Linked DNA regions of Homo sapiens: region 1 is linked to region 2. The links come from fine-mapping of genetic effects on gene expression. Tissue or cell type: caudate. Region 2 holds a variant in brackets; the other region holds the start of a gene. All regions are shown on one strand. Distances are from middle to middle.

What was found. PIP is the estimated chance that this variant, and not a neighbour inherited with it, causes the effect.
Region 1: RAPGEFL1 starts here. The variant in region 2 is fine-mapped to the expression of RAPGEFL1 in caudate (GTEx, PIP 0.98).

Annotation. Positions count from the first base shown.
Region 1 is chr17:40,173,136-40,181,226 of GRCh38, forward strand. RAPGEFL1 (Rap guanine nucleotide exchange factor like 1) reads left to right here and starts at 4,335. Exons shown (of 15, transcript NM_016339.6): 1 at 4,335-5,246. The coding sequence starts at 4,727. RefSeq lists enhancers at 3,214-3,714, 3,715-4,215, 4,607-5,463, 5,464-6,318 and a silencer at 4,247-4,376.
Region 2 is chr17:40,074,549-40,082,649 of GRCh38, forward strand. THRA (thyroid hormone receptor alpha) reads left to right here. Exons shown (of 9, transcript NM_199334.5): 3 at 2,323-2,390; 4 at 2,960-3,060. Among named protein-coding and RNA genes, the nearest start is that of THRA, 16 kb to the left of the region's middle. RefSeq lists enhancers at 236-1,091, 1,215-1,294. The variant T/A (reference allele first, on the strand shown) is at 4,411.

The sequences.
Region 1 (8,091 bases), 99 kb after region 2:
CAAGTCTGAGTCTGTGTTCTTAATGTCCTTGCCAGTGGCTCTCCACCCTACCAGATCCAAAGTCACTTTTTTTTTTTTTTCTGAGACGGTCTTGCCCGTCACCCAGGCTGGAATGCAGTAGCACAATCATAGGTTGCTGTAACTTGGAACTCCAAGGTTCAAGCAATCTTGCCACAGCTTCCCAAATAGCTGTGACTACAGGCCCACACCACCATGCCCAGCTAATTTTTGTGGTTTGTTTTTAGTAGAGACGAGGTCTCAGTGTGTTACCCAGGCTAGTCTGGAACGCCTTGGTTCAAATGATCCTCCTGTCTTAGCCTCCTAGAGTGCTGGGATTACATGTGCAAGCCACTACACCCAGCCCCAATGTTCCTTTCTTATAACAAATATTTTGCAACACTAATATCCCAAAGTGAAATGGACAGATAACATAACCTGCCTGGACACATGATTTCAAAAAACAAATCAACTGTGGGTCATAATTCAGTTTACCTAGTCCACTTGGCCTTTGATGCTTAGAGGGCAGTTCCTACCTTTGAAGTGACTTTTTCCTCTAGGTCCTGGGTGGGATGGAAGTTTACTACAGAAGCTATCTCTGGTATGGGAGAGCAACTTTCATATGGAGCTGGCAGCATTTGTTGGGTTTCACAAATCCATACACGGGAGGCATAGATATCATAGTACATCTTTTTTTTTTTTTTTTTTTTTTTTTTGGTCTTGCTCTATTGCCCAGGCTGGAGTGCAATGGCACAATCGTGGCTCACTGCAGCTTTGACCACCTGGGCTCAATCAATCCACCCACCTCAGCCTCTCAAGTAGCTGAAACCACAAGCATGCACCACCACACCTAGCTAATTTATTTTTGTAGAGATAGGGTCATTGAATTCCTGGGCTCAAGTGATCCCGCTGTCTGGGCTTCCCAAAGTGCTGGGATTACAGGCTTGAGCTGCTGTGCCCAACTATTGTACATCTTATAAAGACAGATGGGACTTCCCCCATATCTTGGTGCTGGTGCCACAGCCAGAGGACTGTGACTTTTCTGAGCCCCGTCCCTAATTCCTTTTTTTTTTTTAGACTGAGTCTCACTCTGTCGCCCAGGCTGGAGTGCAGTGGCACGATCTCGGCTCACCACAACCTCCACCTCCCGGGTTTAAGCGATTCTCCTGCCTCAGCCTCCCAAGTAGCTGGGGTTTACAGGCGCCCGCCACCATGCCCCACTACTTTTTTTCTGTATTTTTAGTAGAGATGGGGTTTCACCATGTTGGCCAGGCTGGTCTCAAATTCCTGGCCTCAGGTGATTGGCTCAGCTTGGCCTCCCAAAGTTCTGGGATTACAGGCGTGAGCCACCACGCTGGGCCCCTAATTCCTCTTTAAATCATGTCAGTTTGCTTCTCTTCCCCACAATGTGATGGGTGACTGTAGGCCTGATCTCCTGGGGTTATGAAAAAATGCCATCCAGCCTTGGGGGTGGGTTACTGGCAGGAGGTTTGAGTGTTGGATGCTTCCCCTTTACCCTTGCCTCTTGCTTCCCTAGTCCTTCAGTTAGACCCTATTGCTCTCTCTGTTGCCCTGGTAACCAGCTCTGCAAGAAGAAACTCAAGCTCAGCAAAGCCCCCAGGTTCTCTCTATCCTCCCAGCCTGCCTCTGGGTGGGCAGAAAGAAGAGGGTGTGTAAGCAGCAGACAGATAGCCTGAGGTGGCCCTGCCCAGTCCCCTTGTAGAAGCCCATGGGCTCAAAAAAAGCTCAAAGCTTTTTCGCCCCCATCTCATAGTTGTTATTCATACCACCCTGCCTTCCTCTTTATTTCTTCCATAAGCGGGTGCAAATGCTCTGCCAGCTCTCTTCCCCTTCAGGGTCAGCGCACAGACCTGCTACCTTGTAGGCAACTCGGAGCACCAAAGACTTGGAATTCCAAAGTCAGCTCCCAGCATCTGCAGCCCACTTGGGTTGACTGTCCGTCTAGGGCAGTGATTTTCAATCCTGGCCATTTGTGTCATGTGAGGAGCTTTTTAAAAAATACCATAAGCCTTCGCCCTGGTTCAGAAATCTGATTTAATTGGTCTGAGATATGGCCTAGGCATCAGTTTTTTTTTTGTTTGTTTGTTTTTTTTTTTTTTGAGACAGTCTTGCTCTTGTTGCCCAGGCTGGAGTGCAGTGGCATGATCTCGGCTCACTGCAGCCTCCACCTCCCGGGTTCAAGCGATTCTCCTGCCTCAGCCTCCTGAGTAGCTGAGATTACAGGCACCAGCCACCATGCCCAGCAAATGTTTGTATTTTTAGTAGAGACAGGGTTTCACTATGTTGGCCAGACTGGTCTCGAACTTCTGACCTCATGTTGCACCCTTCTCGGCCTCCCAAAGTACCGGGATTATAGGCGTGAGCTGTTGCACTTGGCCAGTATTTTTTTTTTTTTTTTAATATGGAGTCTCTCACCCAGGCTGGAGTGCAGTGGCATGATAACAGCTCACTGCAACCTTCACCTCCCAGGTTCAAGCAATCCTTCTACCTCAGCCTCCAAAGTAGCTTGGATTACAGGTGTGTGCCACCATGCCCGGCTAATTTTTTTTGTATTTTTAGAAGTGGGGTTTCACCATGTTGGTCAGGCTGGTCTTGAACTCATGACCTCAAGTGATCTGCCCGCCTTGGCTTCCCAAAGTGTTGAGATTACAGGCGTGAGCCACCAAGCCCAGCCAGCATCAGTATTTCTGAGAAGCTTCCCTGTGATTCCAGTGTGTAGTCAGGGTGAAAACCACTGCCACTCCAGGAGGACCATGACTTGATGCTGGCTCTCCTCACTGATTCAAAATGTTGAACTTAGTCTCTGCCTGACATCCTTGAGCATTTGGGGGAGTACTGGGGTCCTGTGTCCCAAGCTTCTAGCTTCCAGAAGTCTCTCAGTCTGTTTTATTTTCAACCCCCTACACCCTTCACACTCCCCAATTCGCCCTTCCTAACCAACAATTCCCAAATCCTGCCCAGAGAGAAGGTTACCAAGGCAACCGGCTTAATCTGGTAACTGTGGCATGTGCTGGGAGAGAAGCCCTTCCCTCTTCCTATTCAGTTCATAAAATGCTACCTGGGGAGCTCCAACCCATTCCAGCCACTTTCCCCTTTCAAGCCAGGGGATATTGGAGTGTCCAATAAGGGGAGCACAGGAAGCTGATACTCAGACCTCTAATACAGCTTCTTAGCCAAAATTGTGCGCTGTCTTCTTTTTACTGTTTCCAAATCCACAAACAGATGGGTGTGCAAAGCTTTATTTCTGTGAACACATGCTCTAGCACACATGGGAACAGATATGCACATACATTGATACGTATGTCATACACACCCTGTTCAGTTTTACTACCACTCCCAGCCATTAGCATTCCTGTCTCTGCCTGGTTGGTGCTCGGTAAACAGGGGTGGGGCATTGTCCAGAGAGCCTCAACCCATCGAGAACCTGCTGCCACTCCCACACCTTGTAAGTCTAACCTGGATGTTCTCACACTTAGCATGGCTTTACGATGCACCCCCCTCCTCCCCCACACTCCTTCTGGGGCAGCATATCCTTAAGGACAGAATGCTCCTGGTGTGGGCATCAGGAGTAAGGATTACTTGGAGTGCTAATTGGCACCACTTTTCCCACTCCATGGCCATGTACACTTGGGCTCTGTGCTTGATGATAGTCGGCAGTTCTGGGGCTTGTCACCTGTCTCCATGGCCCTGCTTCCTTCTGCTGCCAGCTGGGCTCAGGTGCCCTTGTGCTCCTGGTCTCCTCCCCACTGCCTATTATCCCCTCCTCACCCCAGCTAGACCTGCCACAACCTGCTGCTCCCTGCCTGGCTCCTACCTGCCTGCCAGTACCTGCCCACAGACCAGGCCCACACCACCTATTGTGCCCTACCAGAGAGGACAGATGGGCACCGCCTCCAGTGGCAATGCTAATTCACCCAAGAGGCCTTCCCAGCTCTTCTCACAGAAGGAAGATAAACTCCACATATTTCTGTGAGTATGAGAAAGGTGCACACTCTTGGGTTCAGCAATCTGTAGGCCTGACTTGGGTACACAGGTAGGTGAGTGAAGGTGTCCAGGCCACAGACCTGTCCTGACTCTTTGAAATGATGCTGAGACCCGGTTATCCCTTGAGCCAGGAATCCTTCCCCATTGGTAAATCTCTGACTTACCTTTGCCCTTAATTTCTTCTGCTTAGAACCCAAGTCCCTTACTGTTTCCCTCGCGGTCAACCCCAGCGCGCGAGTTCAAGCCTCGTGCGGCGCGGGGGCGAGCCGAGGAAGGGTAGGGGCGGGGACTGGGCGGGGACTGGAGGAGGGGGCGCGGTCTCGGTTCTGCCACCTTCCCCCTCTTCACGGCCAGGAGCGCAGCCGCCGCCGCCGCCGCCGCCGCGTCCTCTCAGCCTTGCGCTCCGCCCGCTGCCTCTGCCGCCGCAGCGCAGAGCCGGGCGCACCGGCCCCGCAGCCTGCCCACTCTTCGGGCCGCGTGCCGGCTGCAGCCGGCATGGGGGGTTGCTGAGAGCGAGCACTCCTTTCCTCTGGCACCTCCCCCGGCTACTGGCCACTGGACTCTGGCCAGCGAGGCTCGGCCCCTCTGGCCCCCAGTCTGGCGCCTGGCACGGCCCTCTACTCTGCTCCTCCAGCTCTGAGCATCGTGTCTTCGCCGCCCCCCCCGCCCGCGCCTGGGATACCTGGGTCCCCCGGCGACCCCTAGGAGAGGGGCGGGGGGGGGCATGAAGCCGCTGGAGAAATTTCTGAAGAAGCAGACGTCGCAGCTGGCGGGCCGAACGGTGGCGGGAGGTCCCGGCGGGGGTCTGGGGAGCTGCGGTGGGCCTGGAGGGGGTGGGGGACCCGGCGGGGGCGGCGGTCCAGCCGGGGGACAGCGGTCGTTGCAGCGGCGTCAGAGCGTGTCTCGCCTGCTGCTCCCCGCTTTCCTCCGGGAGCCCCCCGCCGAGCCGGGGCTGGAGCCGCCCCCTGAGGAGGAAGGAGGAGAGCCGGCGGGGGTCGCGGAGGAGCCGGGCAGCGGGGGGCCCTGCTGGCTGCAGCTGGAGGAGGTGCCGGGGCCCGGGCCTCTCGGGGGAGGGGGGCCCCTGCGCTCCCCTTCCTCCTACTCATCTGACGAGCTGTCCCCAGGCGAGCCCTTGACTTCGCCGCCCTGGGCCCCTCTGGGCGCCCCCGAGCGGCCCGAGCATCTTCTGAACCGGGTTCTGGAGCGGCTTGCTGGAGGGGCTACCAGGGACAGCGCCGCCTCAGGTAAGGAGCCGGTGGGCTCGAACACCCAGAGCAGGGGCTGGCCCCGGCTCCTCTTCCTTGCCCTTGGAGCGTAGGGGTGGCGCCGTGCCGGGGCTTGGTTATAGGGTTGAGTGGTCCGCGGAAGCCGGCTAGGGGCCTAGCGGAGGTACAGACCCTCCCGCGGAAGAGGAGAGCAGTACTCACCTTCCTCCCTACAGCAGCCTCACCCTCGTCTGGAGAAGCAGCTGAGCCTCTTACTCTCCTTCAGCCACCCTTCCTTTCCCCTGGGCATTGGAGCCACTGACTCCCATGGGTCCCTGATGTTGAATACCTCCTCCTGTGGCCCCAAATTAGGGCCTGACACATTAAAATGGGAGCTGCCCAGCGCAGCCATGCCACCCGCCAGAGGTGCTTTAGCCCTGAAAACCCTGGGGTCCCTGACTGTTCAGAGGCCTACACAGCGCAGGCTGACCCACCCAGGGAGGCAGTGCCAGACAGGCACAGGCCCCAAGCTGCCTTTTAGGCATCAGCAAAGGGATGCGTTGTCCTTAGCAGTTTGGTGGGGGGGATAGTATTCTCCTTGGGCTGGACTCAGAAGGTGTCTGGGAGGGGAGAGGTGGCTGGGCCGGCATCATGGCCCTGCAGCATCCAGGGTGTCCAAGCGCCTCCAGCTTCCACCCTTCGGTGGCAGGCCTCAGCACCCGGCTTTTTTTTTTTTTTCTTTTGGAGATGTAGTCTCACTGTCACCCAGGCTGGAGTGCAGTGGCGCCATCTCAGCTCACTGCAACCTCCACCGCCCAGGTTCAAGCGATTCTCCTGCCTCAGCCTCCTGAGTAGCTGGGACTACAGGCATGTGGCACCACGCCTGGCTAATTTTTGTATTTTTAGTAGAGACAGGGGTTTCACCGTGTTAGCCAGGATGGTCTCGAACTCCTGACCTCGTGATCCACCTGCCTTGGCCTCCCAAAGTGCTGGGATTACAGGCGTGAGCCACTGGCCTGGCTAATTTTTGTAGTTTTAGTAGAGACGGGGTTTCGGGGTTTCACCAACTTGGTCAGGCTGGTCTTGAACTCCTGACCTCGTTATCTACCTCCCCCCACCCCCACCCCACGGCCTCCCAAAGTGCTGGGATTACAGGCGTGAGCCACCGGACCTGGCACACGGCCTCTTTAAAATATAATCACCACACCCTGAGAAGCTTATTCCCTAAATGATGATACTATTTCACCACTCCCTTTCAGCACCCCTACTAAGGGGCCTTTGAGGAAACCAAGGCCCCAAATCTGGTTAGTTCTGAGGTAGAAGACCGAGGGTTCTTTAGGTCTAGCTCTAGGCATTACTCTAAGCCCAGGAGGGTCTGAGGTTTGGGAGCCCCGGCTGAGGCCCTAATGGTGAGGGCTTTCACACTTGCTCTCAGCCCTCGGCAGGGAACCCCAACCTAGATGTGTGGAGGGGGGCTCCACTCTCCTAGATCCTTCTCAAGACCTGGGTCCTCTCCTTTGGAGCAGGCTGTAGTTGCCCTGGGGAGCTGACACCTTTTGGATTTAATTAGAAAAATATCAGACACACACAGCTCTCCTAACCATAACTTCCCGCCTACACCACACACCCTGTGTCTCTATGACACATTCCCTAGGGAGGCTGTACATTGGCCCAGAGCCTGCTTTGGAAAAGACAGATGCCCAACTGTGGCCCCCATATCAGCATCTCCCCAACTCTGCCCCATCTTACTCTTCCTTTGCTCCAGCTTAGGAATCCTGTGAGATAAAGTCTATGAAGGATGTCAGGCCTCTCGTTTCCTCACCCTCATCCCTGAAGCTGGGGGTCAGAGCTGGAGGCTCTCTGACTCATTGTAAGAACACAGCAGGGTAGCTGGGCAGGGAGGAAAAGGGAGAAGCTGTCTTTCCCCTTTTACAGGGGCCTGGTGCCACACGCTCCGCTCATTCTCCCCTGGGGTAAGACTCCTGAAATGTCACCCATGTTATCTGGCAGCCTGGATCCCCAGAGTAACTAGTTTGGGAAATTCCAAACCAGTCCCAGGTGAATGAGAATCAGCTTAACCTGCCACTCTGATGTTCTCCAATAAAACCAATGTTCTCAAGTCATCCTGGTCTCCTCCCAGGGTGTGTGGGAGGAGAGAACTTACAGAAGTTACTCTGAACCTACCAAAGCCTCTCCAACGTCCAAGCAGCCCCCTCTGACCGCTAGGTTTTACCCTAACACTCTGCTTGCCTCAGGCATATTGAGAAAAGGACAAAGACTCAGGATTCTGGGTTCTTATTCCAGCTCCAGGCAAGTCCCTCCCAGCTCTGGGCCTCAGTTTCACATTTGCGAAATGAAATCCTTGAAGTCAATTACTTTGTGTTGGTTTTCCTCCTCCGCCTGCATGGCTAGAACTGACCACAGGAGATAGTGAACCAAGGGGAGTCAGAAGCCTTGGTTTTGTCCTGGGACAGTGCCTGGGGACCTGGCCCTAACCAGTCCTGGTGAGGACACCTGGCTCCCTCCCTGCACCTTGTCTGTCTGTGTGTGCCAGGTGGCCCTGCCCCACCCCAGGGCTGGCTGCAAGTCAGGGCGACCTTGTACCCGGCTGACTGGCTGAGCCAGGCCCAGACGGGGGTGTGGAGGGGAAAGGGGTGGTGAGAGGAGCCGCTCCCCTTCACCATTCCATCATTAACCCTTCTGTCTCTGGGCCCCTAAAGGACACAGGATTTCTATTTAAAGGTTCTGGGATCAAAGTGATGGCAGTCTCTCCATCTCCCTTTTAATCAGGCTGGTTCCCACCTGCCTAGTTAGAACTCAAAGCTGTTAGGTGGGAAATGGGGAGGGGAAGAGGGATACACACACATGCACACACACAGTCCCC
Region 2 (8,101 bases):
GTTCAGCAACTAGGTCATGCCAACTCCTAAGCAGCAGGCATGGGCACCTGGCTGAGCTCTCCTTTAGGCACCGCCTTTAAGCACCTCTGTGGGATGGACGTGAGGCCAGCAAGCCTTCTGCCTACCTTTGTCTGGCAGATGAAGTCATGTTCAGATGTGACAGGCACTTGGATTGAGAGATGCTCATTTTGAAGCGGGGAGCGATACAGAGCAATTACAGGGAGCACATAAGGGGCTCTTCCCTAGACATTGCTGGGCAGTCTCAGATGCCCCCAACGTCCCTTCCACCATTGCTGCCCTTACCTTGAGCATGTGGGATCCAAACAGCCTTGCCATTTTCTTCCTCTCCCTACCAGCCCATTTACTATCTGACCACAAGTGTGTTGTCCACAAGCTGCGGTTCACGTAATACATTTCAGGGCACATGCACCAGTAACTATTGGTCATAGCCCAAGCTTATATTCGGAATCTATTGGGAGCCCCACAAGCTCTTCCTTGTTCATGGTCAAGGGCGGGCACTGCGATGGGGCTCCTCCCAGAAAGTGCACGCCAACCATGATGGTTTTGCTTCCACATGGGTGAGGTGTCAGCCCTGCACATACACCAAGGGATGGTTACCTGTGATCTGCATTGCCCTTGAGGAGCCCAGAGGGTCTCTGTCTTTTCTATCAGCTCCAAGTGGCACAGAGCTTTGTCCCAGTTGGCACGGTGCCCTGGGAGCTGGGTACAGCCTGTGCCTATGGCCAGGGAGAGGGTGGGGGTGGGGGTGCTCCGGGGAGCAGTGTGGCTGACTGTTGCCTAGGAGATCAGATCCCGAGCCAGGAAGCCAGAGGCCTGGCCAGGCAAAGCCCTAAGGCCCACAACTGGGTCCCTGGAGGGTAGAGGAAGTAGATGGAACTCACAGCTGGGCAGGGCATGGGGTAGCTCCCCTCCCCCAAAGCCTCACCCCAGGAAGGACTCTGAGGACGATCTGGCCTGTCGCTGTGTGGCTGTCACTTGCAGCCCCTGTGTCTCCCAGCTTAGGCTTCTGTGGGTCTGGAAGAGTCTGTGCTTAATGTTTGGAGAAAGGCAGGAATGCCAGTTCCCAGTCTCCTAAGACTGCAACCCCTCCCCCATCACCTTCCCCTCCCCCATGTCTATGCGCCACCTTGTGGCTATCTCTAGGACTACACTCAGAGGCTGTGAGTCTGGTGGTAACTGCTGAAGCCGCTAGCTCAACTGGGGCCTAGGTGGGCTGAGTTCCCCTGCACCCAACCCTCTGGGAGGCGTGAGGGAGACCTGACCTTTCAGCCTCATAGGAAGTAGACCGGAGTAATCCCCACGGGGCGTGGAGCATAGGGTTGTCTGTGACTGTGACCCTGGCCAAGGTCACTGTGTCAGTGTGTTGGGAGCTGCATCCGGCTCCAGGAGGAAGGGGCCTGCAACATGCCACACGCAGGGTGGGTGCGGGAGGTTATACAATCCTTGCATGCATGTAGAGGGCTTATGTAACCTGTGTGCACCGAGGTTATGCAACATGTATGTGGAGAGCCTGGCAACATATATGTGCAGTGGCTGAGGGTTGCTAATAATACGCTGCACAGAGGGGCTCAGTCCCGGCTCTGACTCTAGCTCATGGTGTCACCAGGCACAAGCAGGGTCTCAGTTTGCTGCTCTGTTAAATGGAGGCTGTGCAGAGGGTGTAGTGTTTTCTATTGCTGTGGGTTATTTAGCATGTGTGTATGACCTGGAGCTCAAGCAACACGTGCACACTGGAGGGATGAGGGTGGTTTTATGAGGTGCCTGTGCAGAGTGTTGTGTAACACATGGGCATATCCTAGAGGTTGTATAGCACATTTAAGAATGCCCTGAAAATTTCACAGGTATGTTGGCCCTGGTGCATACTCACCATCCATGGGTTTATAGTGAAGGTTGCATGGTTATTCATCTGTGCCGGTGTTATGTTGCATATGTATGTGTGTGTTCTAAAGGCTACATAGCTTTAAGCATATCCTGAGAATTCTTCCAGCGTATTCGTCATGTACTGAAAGATGAGGATGTCCTGCAGATTATGGGTGCTTCAGGTCTTCTGGCGGGTGAATGTGTGTGTGTTGGGGCTCTAGAATATGCTTGTGCCACAGCCAAGCCCCTTATCTCTCTCCCCTGCAACTTCCAGATAACTGGACCCTTTTAAGCATTGTCAGCTGACCCTGGGGGGTGGGAGGTAGAATGAGGACACAAAATGGAAAGAATCAGGCCTTGGGGGATTGCATAAGCCTCTCGGATGAGAAAGGGGCTACTCGAAGACTGCTCTGTGATTCTGCCCACTTTGCCTCCATCCAGTGCCAGGTCACCAGATGGAAAGCGAAAAAGAAAGAACGGCCAATGTTCCCTGAAAACCAGCATGTCAGGTGAGGCTGGCTGTGCGTGCCCCTTCTCCACGTCCCCAACCCCACCAAACCCAGCCAGGGCTCCTCTGGACCTGGATGTGGAACAGTAATTCATGTGTTCCCTGGGGGGAGCCTCCTAGAGGGCTTGGGATGGACTTGTCTGGGGGTGAGAAAGGTAATGTGGGATGTGCCCAGCTTTTGAGGGTGGATTAGGTCAGGACGGCCTCTTCCCTCTTCCCCTAATACCCTCATCTGAGGCCCTACCAGAATCAGGGCCTGAGCTGAAGGACTGAGGGGCTGTATTATCCCCAGTGAGCAGCTGACGTTTATTTTTCCCTCTCCACCATCCTCTGCCTTGTAGATAGATCAAGAAGAAAGCCCTGAATGGGCAGTCAGAAGAACTGAGATTCTTCATACTCTTAGGGCAGAGATGGACAGGTTCACCTCGTGTCTCTCTAGGATTCTACCAGGGAGGCTGGGCTAGGAGAGGGGTCAGAAACAAAAAGTTGAGGGATGGGGAAAAGTGTGAGAGCCTCTCTGCTGGGACTCCAAGCCATGCCTGCCTTCCTCCATCCTTTCCTTCCTCCCAGGGTATATCCCTAGTTACCTGGACAAAGACGAGCAGTGTGTCGTGTGTGGGGACAAGGCAACTGGTTATCACTACCGCTGTATCACTTGTGAGGGCTGCAAGGTATGGAAGCTACCTCCTGCCCCTCCCCTGCCACCTGAGCCCCCATATTACTCCCTATGTCACCTAAAGCCCGCCTGTTAGGTCATCACTTTTTTTTTTTTTCTTTGAGACGGAGTCTCACTCTTGTCCCCCAGGCTGGAGTGCAGTGGCGCGATCATGGCTCACTGCAACCTCCGCCTTCAGGTTCAAGTGATTCCCCTACCTCGGCCTCCTGAGTAGCTGGGATTACAGGTATGCACCTCCACACCCAGCTAGTTTTTTTGTATTTTTAGTAGAGACGGGGTTTCACTATGTGGCCAGGCTGGTCTCGAACTCCTGACCTCAGGTGACCACCCGTCTCAGCCTCCTGAAGTGCTGGGATTACAGGCATACCTGCCTGGTTACTTTCTCTTCTCTTCTCTTATTCATTCATTTACTCATTCATAACTCCTCCTCTGCCACTCACAGGAAAATTGCCTAACTTCTTCGAGCCTTAGTTTCAGTTTCTTCATCTATAAAATGAGGATAATCATTCTCTCTACCTTATAGCATTGTTGGGAGAATTAAATATGTTGGGAGATAGTTCACTTGAAGTGTTTAAAACAGTGCCATTGGGTGCTGTGGCTCATGCCTAAAATCCCAGCCCTTTGGGAGGGAGGCCAAGGCGGGAGCATCCCTTGATCCCAGGAGTTTGAGACCAGCCTAGCTAACACAGTGAGACACTGTCTCTACAAAATTAAAGAAATTAGCTGGGTGTGGTGCCACATGCCTGTGGTCCCAGCTACTCAGGAGGCTGAGGTGGGAGACTGCTTGAACCCAGAAGGTCAGGGCTGCATTGAACGGTGGTGGCGCCACTGCACTCCGGCCTGGGTGACAGAGCAAGATTCTGTCTCAAAGTAAAATAATAAAATAAAATAAAAAATAGTGCCATGTGCATAAGAAGCATTTGATAAATGCCAGCCATCACCCATTCATTCAGTGTATTCTTAGGTGTGAGAGTGTAGTACGTACCTCGCCTTCAAGCTGCTCACAGCCTGTCAGAGAGAGAGACACAACTTGAAACAAACATCAGTGTTATTCAAAATGTGGTTCATGGACCACCTGTCCTACTAGTTAAAATGCAGATTCCCAGCCTTCATCTTTTTTTTTTTTTTTTTTTTTTGAGATGGCATCTCGCTCTGTTGCCCAGGTTGGAGTGCAATGGTGTGATCTCGGCTCACTGCAACCTTCGCCTCCCGGGTTCAAGCGATTCTCCTGCTTCAGCCTCCTGAGTGGCTGGGACTACAGGCACCTGCCACCACGCCCAGCTAACTTTTATATTTTTAATAGAGACAGGGTTTCACCATGTTGACCAGGATGGTCTTGATCTCT[T/A]GACCTCGTGATCCGCCCGCCTTGGCCTCCCAAAGTGCTGGGGTTACAGGTGTGAGCCACTGCGCCCAGCCTGCCCAGGCTTCATCTTAACCCTGCTCACTCAGAGCCCTTTTGTGGAGCCCAGGAATCTTCCTTTTAACAGAATCCCGGAGTGTTTCCCATGCACCTGAAAGAGCGAGAGCCAGTACTGGGGGGGTAGTGGGAGCTGGGAGCACAGAGGAGAAGAGGACAGCAGGTTCTTCCAGGCAGAGGGGATGACAAGGTCATAGATTTTGGGAGGCCTAATTGTTTTGTTTTGTTTTTTTTGAGATGGAGTCTCGCTCTGTTGCCCAGCCTGGAGTGCAGTGGTGCAATCTTGGCTCACTGCAACCTCCACCTCTCGGGTTCAAGCAATTCTCCCTGCTTCAGCATTGGTAGCTGGGATTACAGACACCTGCCACCAAGCCTGGCTAATTTTTGTATTTTTAGTAGAGATAGGGTTTCACCATGTTAGCCAGGCTGGTCTCGAACTCCTGACCTCAGGTGATCTGCCTGCCTCTGCATCCCAAAGTGCTTAAGAGGCCTAATTAGATTTCACTTTGATCATTTCAGCCTGGATAGCCTTTCCAGGATCACCTCCTAAAAATGCAAGGCCTTCCAAGAAACAGAATTATTTAAATCCCAGCACTTTGGGAGTCCAAGGCAGGCAGATCACCTGAGGTTACCACACCCGGTGGCACTGTTTTAAACACTTCAAGTGAATTGTCTCATTTAATTCTCCCAACAGTGCTATAAGGTAGATAAAATGATTATCCCCATTTTATAGATGAAGAAACTGAGACTCAGAGAAGTTAGGCAATTTTCTTGTGAGTGACAGAGGAGGGATTATGAATGAGCAAATGAACGAATGAGTAAGGTCAGGAATTTGAGACCATCCTGGCCAACATGGTAAAAGCCTGTCTCTACTAAAAATACCAAAATTGGCCAGGTGTAGTGATGTACGCCTGTAATCCCACCTACTTGGGAGGCTGAGGCAGGAGAATCTCTTGAACTTGGGAGATGGAGGTTACAGTGAGAGTGGAGATTAAGTCAGTGTACTCCAGCCTGGGTGACAGAGCGACAGAGTGATACTCTGTCTCAAAATAAAAAAAAAAAGAAACAGAATGATTTATATGTTAAAGGCCAGGTATAGTAGCTCACGCCTGTAATCCAAACACTTTAGGAGGCCAAGGTGGGAGGATTGCTTGAGCCCAGGAGTTTAAGAACAGCCTGGGCAACATAGTGAGACCCTGTCCATACAAAAAAATTTTTAAAGTAGCCAGGCATGGTGGTGCACACACACCTGTGGTCCCAGCTACTCAGGCAGCTGAGGTAGGACGATCACTTGAGGCTGGGAGGTCGAAGCTGCTGTGAGCTGTGATTAAGCCATTGCACTCCAGCCTGGGCGACAGAACAAGACCCTGTCTTAAAAACAAAAAACAAACAAAAAAAAAAAACGGAAAAAAAGTTTAAGGCTTGAAGTTTCTCTCTCTTTCTTGATGTCAACCAAACCAAGACCATGAGGGATTTAGAGTTCCCTAGCAGAAGCAATACAATCCTTCTGGAAGCAATACAAACAGTGTAGCATAGAGAAAGGATCTTTTACTCTCACGGACATCTGAGTCCCAGGGAAGCACCCTGAAAAGACAGAGATGCCTTGGCCCCACCCTTGGATAGTTTTATTTTGTAGTTCTGGAGTGAGGCCCAGGAATCTGTATCTTTGGTAGGTGCCTTTGGTGACTTTTTTTTTTTTTTTTTTTTTTCAAGACGGAGTCTCACTCTGTCACCCAGGCTGGAGTGCAGTGGCGCGATCTTGGCTCACTGCAACCTCTGCCTCCCAGGTTCAAGCACTTGTCCTGCCTCAGCCTCCTGAGTAGCTGGGATTACAGGTGCCTGCCACCTCACCTGGCTAATTTTTTGTATTTTTAGTAGAGACAAGGTTTCACGATGTTGGCCACGTTGGTCTTGAACTCCTGACCTCGTGATCCACCCACCTCAGCCTCCCAAAGAGCTGGGATTACAGGCGTGAGCCACCGCACTCGGCTGCCTTTGGTGATTTTAATGCCCCTGGAATCTGAGAGCTCAGACGTTGGTGTCCCATACCTGAGGCCCAGTTCTGACTCTGCTGCCCACCGGCCACATGACTTTGGGCAAATTGCTTCATCTCACCAAGCTTCAGTTTCCTTGTCTGCAAAGTGGAGGCAGTAACAGTTCCTACCTCATAGGGTTGTCTGGAGGGTTCACTGTGATGTTCCATGAAAGACAAGGCTTATCTTTTGGGTTTTTGTTTTTGTTTGTAATGGGGTCTCTGTCACCCAGGTTGGAGTGCAGTGGTGCGATCATAGCTCACTGCAGCCTTGACCTCCTGGTCTCAAGCAATCCTAAGCAATCCTCCCACCTCAGCCTCCAGAGTAGCTGGGATTATAGGTGCACGCCACAACCCCTGGCCAATTTGTGTATTTTTAGTAGAGATGGGGTTTTGCTATGTTGGACAGGCTGGTCTTGATCTTGAACTCCTGGCCTCAAGTGATCTGCCTGCCTCAGCCTCCCAGAGTGCTGGGATTACAGGTGTGAGTCATTGCACCTGGCCAGCAAGGCTTATGTTTACTAAGTGACTGACACATTGTAAACATGAAAAAATACTAATTCTTCATATTATTGCAATCATCTTGAGTTTTGAGGTGTTTCCTTTAAAATAAAGGCGAGGCTGGGTGCGGTGGCTCACGCCTGTAATCCCAGCACTTTGGGAGGCCGAGGTGGGCAGATCACCTGAGGTCAGGAGTTCGAGACCAGCCTGGCCAACATGGTGAAACCCCATCTCTATAAAAATACAAAAATTAGCCGGGCGTAATGGTGGGCACCTGTAGTCCCAGCTACTCGGGAGGCTGAGGCAGGAGAATTGCTTGTACCTGGGAGGTGGAGGTTGCAGTAAGCTGAGATCACACCACTGCACTCCAGCCTGGGTGACAGAGTGAAACTTCATCTCAAAAAGAAAAAAAAAATTAAATTAAAAAAATAAAATAAAGGTGAATCCCAATGTAGAGAATTGAAATTTTTCTCTTCCCCTACTAGAGTTCATACTCAGTCCCTTTCCTTGACTTTTTTGGTTCCCCTGTTTTATGAATTCCACCTGCATGGACAACAGGCAACATATATGAGAATGGTTTTTGGGTCAGTGTTGTTTTTAAAGTCATTTAGCAAAATGGAAAATGAGGTTTTACTTGGATTTCCTTTTTTTTTTTTTTTTTTTTTTTTGAGACAGAGTTTTGCTCTTGTTGCCCAGACTAGAGTGCAATGGCACAATCTTGGCTCACCGCAACCTCTGCTTCCTGGGTTCAAGCAATTCTTCTGCCTCAGCCTCCCAAGTAGCTGGGATTACAGGCATGTGCCACCATTCCCGGCTAATTTTTTCTTTTTTTTTTCTTTTTTGAGATGAAGTCTCACTCTTGTCACCCAGGCTGGAGTGCAATGCGAGCTCCACCTCCTGGGTTCAAGCGATTCTCCTGCCTCAGCCTCCCGAGTAGCTGGGATTACAGGGGCAGGCCCAGCTAATTTTTATATTTTTAGTAGAGATGGGGTTTCACCATGTTGGCCAGGCTGGTCTTGAACTCCTGACTTCAGGCAGTCTGCCCGCCTGGGCCTCCCAAAGTGCTGGGATTACAGGCATGAGCCA